Homo sapiens: one gene and its partners. The protein of the gene in region 3 purifies or fractionates together with the protein of the main gene of each other region. This does not show direct contact. Each region holds a gene or a part of one and is shown on either strand. Other genes may lie near its edges.

Region 1 (2,469 bases), on a different chromosome or scaffold from region 3:
TTTTCCTTTCTGTATTAATTATACCAGTGTTAAGTGACATAGATAAGAACTTTGCACACTTCAAATCAGAGCAGTGATTCTCTCTTCTCTCCCCTTTTCCTTCAGAGTGAATCATCCAGACTCCTCATGGATAGGTCGGGTGTTAAAGTTGTTTTGATTATGTACCTTTTGATAGATCCACATAAAAAGAAATGTGAAGTTTTCTTTTACTATCTTTTCATTTATCAAGCAGAGACCTTTGTTGGGAGGCGGTTTGGGAGAACACATTTCTAATTTGAATGAAATGAAATCTATTTTCAGTGAAAACTTGTTGACTTTGAGTTTTGCTGTGTTTGTGGCTAGAGTTTTGGGATATTTAGTACAGAGTGAATCTCACACCATATCATTGGGAAGCCTGAATAACCTTCATATTCTCCCATTTTTACAACTCTATCAGAACTGTACGGGTATAACGGAAATGTTTAGGAACCATTATGCTCGCTCTTCCCTGTTTGGGAGCAGACAAGAAGGAAGAGTAGCCTGGTGGCAGTGGCAACGATATAAGTACATAAGGAAAAGCAGATAAACTTCAGGACACTAAAAACCAATTATCTGCTCATTTTTACCCCTGTAGTCATTTCTGGGCATGCCTTAGTTTGCTTGGGTTGCTATAATGTAATGCCATAGACTGGCTGAAAGAACAGAAATGTATTTTCTCACAGTTATGGAGGCTGGAATTCTGAGATCAAAGTTGAAGCCACTTCATTTTCTGGTGAGGACACTCTTCCTGGTTTACAGATGGCCACCTTCTTGCTTGTTCTCACATGGCATTTCTTTGGTATGTGCCTGGTGGGGGAGAGAGAAAATAGGCTCTCATGTCTCTTCTTACAGCAACACTAATTGTATTGGATCAGGGTCCCACTCTTATGGAGACCCAGGAAAGCTGGTGGTATAACAACTTGGTTCAAGTCCAAATGCCTAAGAACCTGGGGAGGGGCATGGGGAATGCTGGTATAAGTCCCAGAGTCTGAATGCCCAGGAACAAGCAGGAGCTGTGATGTCCAAGGACAGGAGGGCAGGATCTTTGTAATGAATTTTTAATGTCAACCTTAGCACTCAGGGGATATGGCCTGGTCATCAGAACATCTGGAATCTAATCCTCTTTCTACTTCTCACCAGATGAGGGATCAAGACAGGTTATTTAGCATCCCTGCACTTGCGGTCCTGGGGATCTTATTTATATTCATTTAAAAAATAAATTACAAACAAACAGCCAGGCGCAGTGGCTCATGCCTATAATTCCATCACTTTGGGAGGCCGAGGTGGGTAGATCACCTGAGGTCAGGAGTTCTAGACCAGCCTGGCCAACATGGTGAAACCCCGTCTCTACTAAAAATACAAAAAATTAGCCAGGTGTGGTATTGTGTGCCTGTAATCCCAGCTACACAGGAGGCTGAGGCAGGAGAATTGCTTAAACCCGGGATGCAGAGGCTGCAGTGAGCCGAGATCGTGCCATTGCACGCCCGCCTGGGCTACAAGAGCAAAGCTCCGTCTCAAAAAAAAAAAAAAATTACAAACAAACAGAACTCCATTGTACAAAAAAACCTGTGATCCTCAAGTTAAGATCAGTCCTAGAATAAAAACACTAAGAATGGCTGAGAAAACAGACCTCCACCCTCTCAGCTCTCCATTACTGAGCAGCTGGGGAGCTGTCTCGCTCCCCGCATTCAGTGGCTCCTGTGGTCTGTATTTTTGTATCCTCCCCAAAATTCAGGTGGTGAAACCTTAACCCCCCAGGTAATGGTAATAGAAGCTGGGGCCTTTGGAAGGTGATTAGATCATGAGGGTAGTGCCTTTTAAAAGAGACTCAAGATAAGATAGAGACCCCCTCATTTCTTCTGCCATGGGAGAACACAGCAAGAAGTCACCATCCGTGAACCAGAAAGTGGGTTCTCACCAGATACTGAATCTGCCAGTGCCTTGAACCTAGACTTTCCAGCCAGAACTGTGAGAAATTTCTATTGTTTATAAGCCACCCAGTTGATATTTAGTTACAGCAGCCCAACCAAGACTGTGGTTATGAGGAAACAAACACATTATTGTGGCTAGACTAATGGAATTGGGTCCCTTACCTCCAAGTACACCCTCTGTCCTTTTCGGTAAAAATATCTTCGCCAGGCACGGTGTCTCATGCCTATGATCCCAACACTTTGGGAGGCCGAGGCTGGAGGGTTGCTTGAGCCCAGAAGTTTGAGACCAGCCTGGGCAACACTCTACAAAAAAAAAAATAAATAAATAAATAAATAAAATAAATCAGCCAGGTGTGCACCTGTGGTCCCAGCTGTTCAGGAGGCTGAGGTGGGAGGATCACTTGAGCCTGGGAGGTCGTGGCTATGATTGCTCCACTGCACTCCAGCCTGGGCAATAGAGTGAGACCCTATCAATCAATCACCACCCCCCCCCCCCCCAAAAAAAAAAGTATCTTGGCCA
Region 2 (2,998 bases), on a different chromosome or scaffold from region 3:
TGTGTGAGAGGAAGGTGTGTGGGAGGAGGCAGATTTGTGGGGGGAGGCGGGCGTGTGGGGGAGGCGGGTGTGAGGCGGGTGTCCGGGAGGCAGGTGTTGGAGCGCGGGCAGGTGTTGGAGCGCGGGCAGGTGTTGGAGCGCGGGCAGGTGTTGGAGCGCGGGCAGGTGTTGGAGCGCGGGCAGGCTCGAGCACAGGCCCCTTCACCGCAGGCACTGAGGGGACTAACAGGGCAGCCCCGGGCCCCTTCTCAAAGGCGGCTCTAGCGGGGTTCCAGGGCTGGGGGCGCTGAGACCCAGAGGGAGAACAGGGCCTGGGGGCGACGGGCTCCTCCGGGTCTCAGAAGGAGGGGCAGGGCCCGCCAGGTGGAAGGAAGGCGCCTGGGAGACCTCCTGAAAGTGGGGACCCCCGGAGCGCGTGGGGGTGGTGGCTGCCAGGTGGGGGCGGAGGGGGTGCGGGGCGCGCCCCGGCCCTGACCCCCCTGCCGCCCCTCCCGCTCAGCCGAGAAGGTGAGCTCCCTGGGGAAGGACTGGCACAAGTTCTGCCTCAAGTGCGAGCGCTGCAGCAAGACGCTGACGCCCGGGGGCCACGCCGAGGTGAGCCCCACTGCGCGGCGCGGGCGGGGGCGGGGGTCGCGACTCCCGCCACCCTCAGGCAGGGTCCTGACCCGCGCCCCTCTGCGCAGCATGACGGGAAGCCGTTCTGCCACAAGCCGTGCTACGCCACCCTGTTCGGACCCAAAGGTGAGCTCCGGCTGCCCTCGGCCTGCCCTGGGACCTGCTGGGAGGGGCGTGGCGCTGGCGCTGGGGAGGGCTGGGGGTCCCGGCCGCCGTGGATCCCCGCCCAGAGTCCCTGCCACCCTGGAAAGCCTAGTGCCCCCCAGTCCCCAGCGGGCCGTTTTCTGAGATGCCCGGTGGCCGCGGCCCCCACCCCACGTACCCCCGCCCCACGTACCCCCACCCGCAGGCGTGAACATCGGGGGCGCGGGCTCCTACATCTACGAGAAGCCCCTGGCGGAGGGGCCGCAGGTCACCGGCCCCATCGAGGTCCCCGCGGCCCGAGCAGAGGAGCGGAAGGCGAGCGGCCCCCCGAAGGGGCCCAGCAGAGGTGGGCTGGGCGCGGGCTGGGGCTGGGGGTTGTGGGCACGCGCGGGCTGGGGCTGGGGGTTGTGGGCACCCCCGGCCCCGCCCCGCCCTGACTCGTGCGCCCCACAGCCTCCAGTGTCACCACTTTCACCGGGGAGCCCAACACGTGCCCGCGCTGCAGCAAGAAGGTGTACTTCGGTGAGTGCGCGCCCGGGCCCCGGACCCCCGCCCCCGCCCCCGCCCCGGGGCTCGGCCTCACTCCTCCCCCTTTCCAGCTGAGAAGGTGACGTCTCTGGGCAAGGATTGGCACCGGCCCTGCCTGCGCTGCGAGCGCTGCGGGAAGACACTGACCCCCGGCGGGCACGCGGAGGTGAGGGGAGTGCAACGGGGCTTGGGGGCCGGGCAGGGGCGCGGGGTCGGGGGGATGAGGGTGAGAGGCGCGCCTAGAGGGGATGGGGGGTGGTGCTTCTGGGAGCTGCGCTGCCCTCTCCCCCACGGCGAGCCGGCCTGCACGTTCTGGAAGCCTCCAGGTGATGGGTCGGGGGAGTCTGTGGACTCCTCCCTCAGCACCCACCTTCTGCCCCAGCACGACGGCCAGCCCTACTGCCACAAGCCCTGCTATGGAATCCTCTTCGGACCCAAGGGTGAGTGTAGCCAGGGTGGTCCACGATGTCTTCCCTGCCCTCCCCTTCCCTCCACTGTTCCCCCGACCCACCCCAGCGGCCTCCCTCCACAGGAGTGAACACCGGTGCGGTGGGCAGCTACATCTATGACCGGGACCCCGAAGGCAAGGTCCAGCCCTAGGCTACAGCGGCTCTCATGATGTGGGCTCACCTGCGCCCCAGACCCTGCAGGGGCCCCCCTGCTTGGCTCTGCTGGGAGAGTGCTCAGCCGCCCAGTCCTGCCTGCAAGCCCAGGGCGAGTATTGGAGGAGGGGCAGCCACGGGCAGAGCACCATGCCCATCCCCGAGTCTCTGGTGTGTCTGCCCCCTCTGGCATCCTCTGGGCGTCCCATGATCCCTTCTGTGTCTGCGTGTCCGAATCCCCGTGTGACCCTGTCCCAGCATTTTCCCGCCGACCCTGCGTGTCCCCGTGGCGCTGTCCGCTCTCCCTCTCCTGCTGCCCACCCACCTGCCAGTGTTATTTATGCTCCCTTCGTGGGTGATGGCCACGCCCTCACCATGTCCCTGGCAGAGGGCTTCCCTCCGGGATCCCCTGCCTGGTGCCCACACTGCCTCGCAAGCGCTCGCCACCCTCACGTGGCTCACCTGCTGTTGAGCCTTGTGCTGTCAATAAACGGTTTGAGGATTGCAGGATTGTCTCTGCTTGTGGGATGGATGCAAATCCCAGACCAGGGTCCCTTTCTCCGGTCCATGCGTGCTCCCAGCCAACACCCCTGGGCCTGGCTGCTAGTGGGGGTGGGCTCTTCTCCTGGGGGTCATAGTGGGAGGTGGGGCCCTGGGATGTTTCTGAGCAGGAGGGAGGGATGGGGGCGGGGAGCGTGGTCTCCGGTTTGGGTGGTGGTGCCCACCCAGATGGGGAGGCAGTAAGAACGCCAGGCTGTGGGGAGGTAAGGAAGGTGGGAGGCATTCCGGGGCCAGGGTCCTGGCCAGGGTCAGGTGAGGGTGGGGTCCATGGAGGACAGAGCCTTGGAGAAAAGTTGAACCTAGAACCCTGAAAATACCAACAGCAGGCCTGAGAACCCGGAGCTGCCTGGGTGTGTGGACCCTGGCAAGCGCAGGAGGGGTCCGCCCTGAGAGCAGAGTGTGGCTGAGGAGGGAAGGGGGCCGGGGACCAGAGGAGGGGTCCTGGGCAGAGAATGGGGAAGCCGGCGAAGGTCGGGTGGGACAGAGGTCTCTGGCAGCCCCAGACTGGACTGGGATGCGCAGGAGGGTTTGGGGGCTCTGGTCAGAGC
Region 3 (3,656 bases):
TGTGAACACTGATAAGACAGGGAGAATATCAAAAACGCCCTCATTGCCTCTTTCTCCCCATGTCTATCACAACAACTTATGTAGCACCGACGGCTTGATAATACTAACAGTTGTGATCCTTAATACTTCTTTTGTTTTCATAGTGATGCCAGATACTATTTTAAGCAGTTCACATGGATTAATTAATTTAATCCATAAGAAGACCTCTATGACATTGTTTCTTTTATTATCTCCAAATAGTAATGAGTCACACACTTCGGTTGTCATCCATATAAAAGCCATGTGACTTGGCACAAATCTTCTAAGTTATCGGAGCTCCAGATTCCTAGTCCATGAAATGGAAGTAAAGAATAATAGTTCATGTTATAGACCATAGTTATCAGCAACATAATAATAAAATGAGGCTATCGGGGTACAGAGATGTTAAAGAATTTTCCTGGGGCACAGTGTCAGTGGTAGTCTAATCCAGAGCTCCAAGCCATTTAAAGCTCATTCACGTTTGTATTTGTTTATGAAGTTCAGATGTTGCTCACTAGGGCTTTACCCCATAGGGCCTACTGGTGCTTCCATTGAGACACCCACTCTCGCAACAGGAAGGACCAGCTGGCCTCTGCTCTGTTACCGGGGCCACTCCCATGGCTTAGGAATCGCTTTGACTGTTGGCCCCTCCTTGAGCTCCTTGAGGGCTTTGTCTGCACCTGGGGCATCCGAGAAGCCCCAGTCCCAGCCCAGGGGATCCCTCAGAGGCCCCTGAATGAGTGATTCTGGAAGTGCAGATTCAGCTCTGGTTTAGAAGGTAAAGGGATCTGGGAGTTGGGTTGCCAGTATGGAGAACGAATTCAAAGAAGGATCCAGAAAGGTATTCAATGTTATTATTATTACATTTGAACAATGTTTACAAGCTCAGAGAGGATTTTCCCTTAGCTTATTTTACATGTATTATTCACTATTTCATAAGTGAGGAAGCTGAGTAAAAAGTAGCTTAAGGGCCGGGCGCGGGGGCTCACGACTGTAATCCCAGCAATTTAGGAGGTTGAGGCGGGCAGATTACGAGGTCAAGAGATCGAGACCGTCCTGGCCAACATGGTGAAACCTCATCTCTACTAAAAATACAAAACTTAGCAGGGCGTGGTAGCGCCTGCCTGTAATCCTAGCTACTCAGGAGGCTGAGACAGGGGAATCGCTTGAACCGGGGAGGAGGAGATTGCAGTGAGCCAAGATCGCACCACTGCACTCTAGCCTGGTGACAGAGCGAGACTTTGTCAAAAAAAAAAAAAGAGTAGCTTAATATTGTTGGTCAGTGACACATCCCAGTGTAACCAGAATTGGTATGGGTACCACCTCACTGAATTCCACATTCAATGTTGGTGCCTCGGTAGGGTGGTATGCCAGATCTGGTACTGCTTTCTTTGCTGCCTAGATTAATTTCAGCAAACCATTTCTTTACCTCTCCCTTCCCTGTATTCATCTCCCCACACCATCTTTCCCAGCAGTGTTTTGTCCCCTCCCTATGTTTTTACATTTACTCTCCCAGCAGCTGTCTACGAGCTTATATGGGATCCCTTGTATTTTATAGAAGCTCTTCCTTTTGTAGACCTTGTGAATTCTTAGAATGCTATTTTTCTCCAAATATTCTGTGTACTACACTCTCAACTACATGGAGATTTCTGCTGTTTCCACGAATGTCAGTCTTAAAAGAGTGTGAAGATAAGCATTCTAGCCCTGGAAACTGCATTCATTTAGGCCATTCCTTTTGCTTCTAATCTCCCAGGTTTGTCTCATTTAGGCAAGTGTAACTCTCCCCGCGTTGTTGAGAACATTCATTAAGGTAATGCATGTGAAGACGCTTTGTAAGCTCTAAAGCACTATAGAAATGTCACTGATACTGTTTATCTGTAACCTTCACATTATAAAGATCATGCCCAAGAAGCCAGCAGAGGACGAAAATGATTCGAAGGGAGTGTCAGAAGCATCTGGCCCACAAAACGATGGGAAACAACTGCACCCCCCAGGAAAAGCAAATATTTCTGAGAAGATTAATAAGAGATCTGGTAAGAGGAAATGATTTGGGAACAACTTCTCTGGCTTTTCTGGCTATGTTCAGGTGTGTGGACTGGGTGTGTGGCATGGATCCCAGACAAGCCTGGGTCCAGGCTGGGCTGAAGAGCTCGCCCAGCTCCAGATGAGATGTTAGACATGACTTCCAGAGATGCAGACTGGAGTTGTCATCCATATAAAAAACCACGTGACTTGGGACAAGTCTTCCAAATTTTCTCAGCTCCAGATTCCTAGTCCATAAGATGGAAATAAAGAATCATAGTTCGTAAATTGTTTGGAGGCATTAAATTAAATCCTGAAGGCCTGATGACATGAAAGGTGCTCAAGCGATTCTATCTGTGATAACCTGGGATCATATCTTACTCAGCTCAATGCCTGATACCCAATACAGGTGTACTTCAGAGATATTGCAGGTTGGGTTCCAGAGCACTGCAATAAAGTGAGTCACACACATTGTTTTTCGTTTGTTTCGCAGTGCATAAAAACATTATGTTTACACTATAGTGTACTCTACTAAGTGTGCAATAGCATTATGTCTAAAAATGTACATACCTTAATTTTAAAATAATTTATTGTTAAAAAATGCTAACAATCTTCTGAGCCTTCAGTGAGTTACACTCTTCTTGTTGGTGGAGGGTCTTGCCTCGGTGTTGATGGCTGCTGGCTGATCAAGGTGGTGGTTGCTGAAGGGTGGAGTGGCTGTGGCAGTTTCTTAAAAGAACACAACAATGAAATTTGCCACATCGATTAGCTCTCCCTTTCATGAAAGATTTCTCTGTAGTATGTGATGCTATTCGATAGCATTTAGCCACTTTAGAACTTCTTTCAAAGTTGGAGTCAATCATCTCTAGCTATGAAAGTTTTAGATGGCATCTACTTCCGATAAAAGGCTGTTTAATCTATATTGAAAATCTGTTGTTTAGTGTAGCCACGTTCATCAGTGATCTTAGCTAGATCTTCTGGATAACTTGCTGCAGCTTCTCCATCAGTGTTTGCTGCTACACCTTGCACTTTTATGTTATGGGGACAGCTTCTTTCCTTAAACCTCACAAACCAACCTCTGCTAGTTTCACACGTTTCTTCACCTCTCTCAGCTTTCATGGGCTTGAAGAGAGTTCAGGTCTTGCTCTGAATTAGACTTTGGCTTAAGGGAATGTTGTGGCTGGTTTCATGTTCTATCCTGATCACTCAAACTTTCTCTATTGCAGCAGTAAGGCTGTTTTGCTTTCTTATTCTTGTGTTCACTGGGTATTAGTATTATTATTTCCTTCAAGAACTTTTCCTTTGCATTATATACTATTCTTTCTTTCAAGAACTTCTCCTTTGCATGCACAGCTTGGCTATTTGGTGCAAGAGGCCTAGCTTTCATCCTGTCTCGGCTTTCAGCATGCCTTCCTCACTAAGCTTAGCCATTTCTAGATTCTGATTTAATGTGAGAGAATGCGACTCTTCCTTTCATTTGAACAGTTAGTGGCCATTTTAGGATTGTTAACTGTCCTAATTTCAGTATCGCTGTATCTCAGGGAATAGGTAGGCCCAAGAAAAGGAAAAGAGATGGGGAAGAGCTCATTGGTGGAGCAGTCAGAATACACACAACA

What was found.
Region 1: the proteins of SSX1 (region 3) and ACO1 purify together in Homo sapiens (affinity purification with mass spectrometry; one large-scale study listed by BioGRID and IntAct). This does not show direct contact.
Region 2: the proteins of SSX1 (region 3) and CRIP2 purify together in Homo sapiens (affinity purification with mass spectrometry; one large-scale study listed by BioGRID and IntAct). This does not show direct contact.

Annotation. Positions count from the first base shown.
Region 1 is NC_000009.12:32,450,531-32,452,999, forward strand, and holds part of ACO1 (cytoplasmic aconitate hydratase), read left to right. Parts: 3' UTR 1-2,469. UniProt on the Homo sapiens protein: Bifunctional iron sensor that switches between 2 activities depending on iron availability. Iron deprivation, promotes its mRNA binding activity through which it regulates the expression of genes involved in iron uptake, sequestration and utilization.
Region 2 is NC_000014.9:105,477,767-105,480,764, forward strand, and holds the end of CRIP2 (cysteine-rich protein 2), read left to right. Parts: intron 1-499; coding exon 500-594; intron 595-683; coding exon 684-741; intron 742-964; coding exon 965-1,105; intron 1,106-1,212; coding exon 1,213-1,281; intron 1,282-1,358; coding exon 1,359-1,453; intron 1,454-1,669; coding exon 1,670-1,727; intron 1,728-1,819; coding exon 1,820-1,887; 3' UTR 1,888-2,396; downstream 2,397-2,998.
Region 3 is NC_000023.11:48,261,867-48,265,522, forward strand, and holds part of SSX1 (protein SSX1), read left to right. Parts: intron 1-1,915; coding exon 1,916-2,051; intron 2,052-3,656. UniProt on the Homo sapiens protein: Could act as a modulator of transcription. Plays a role in spermatogenesis.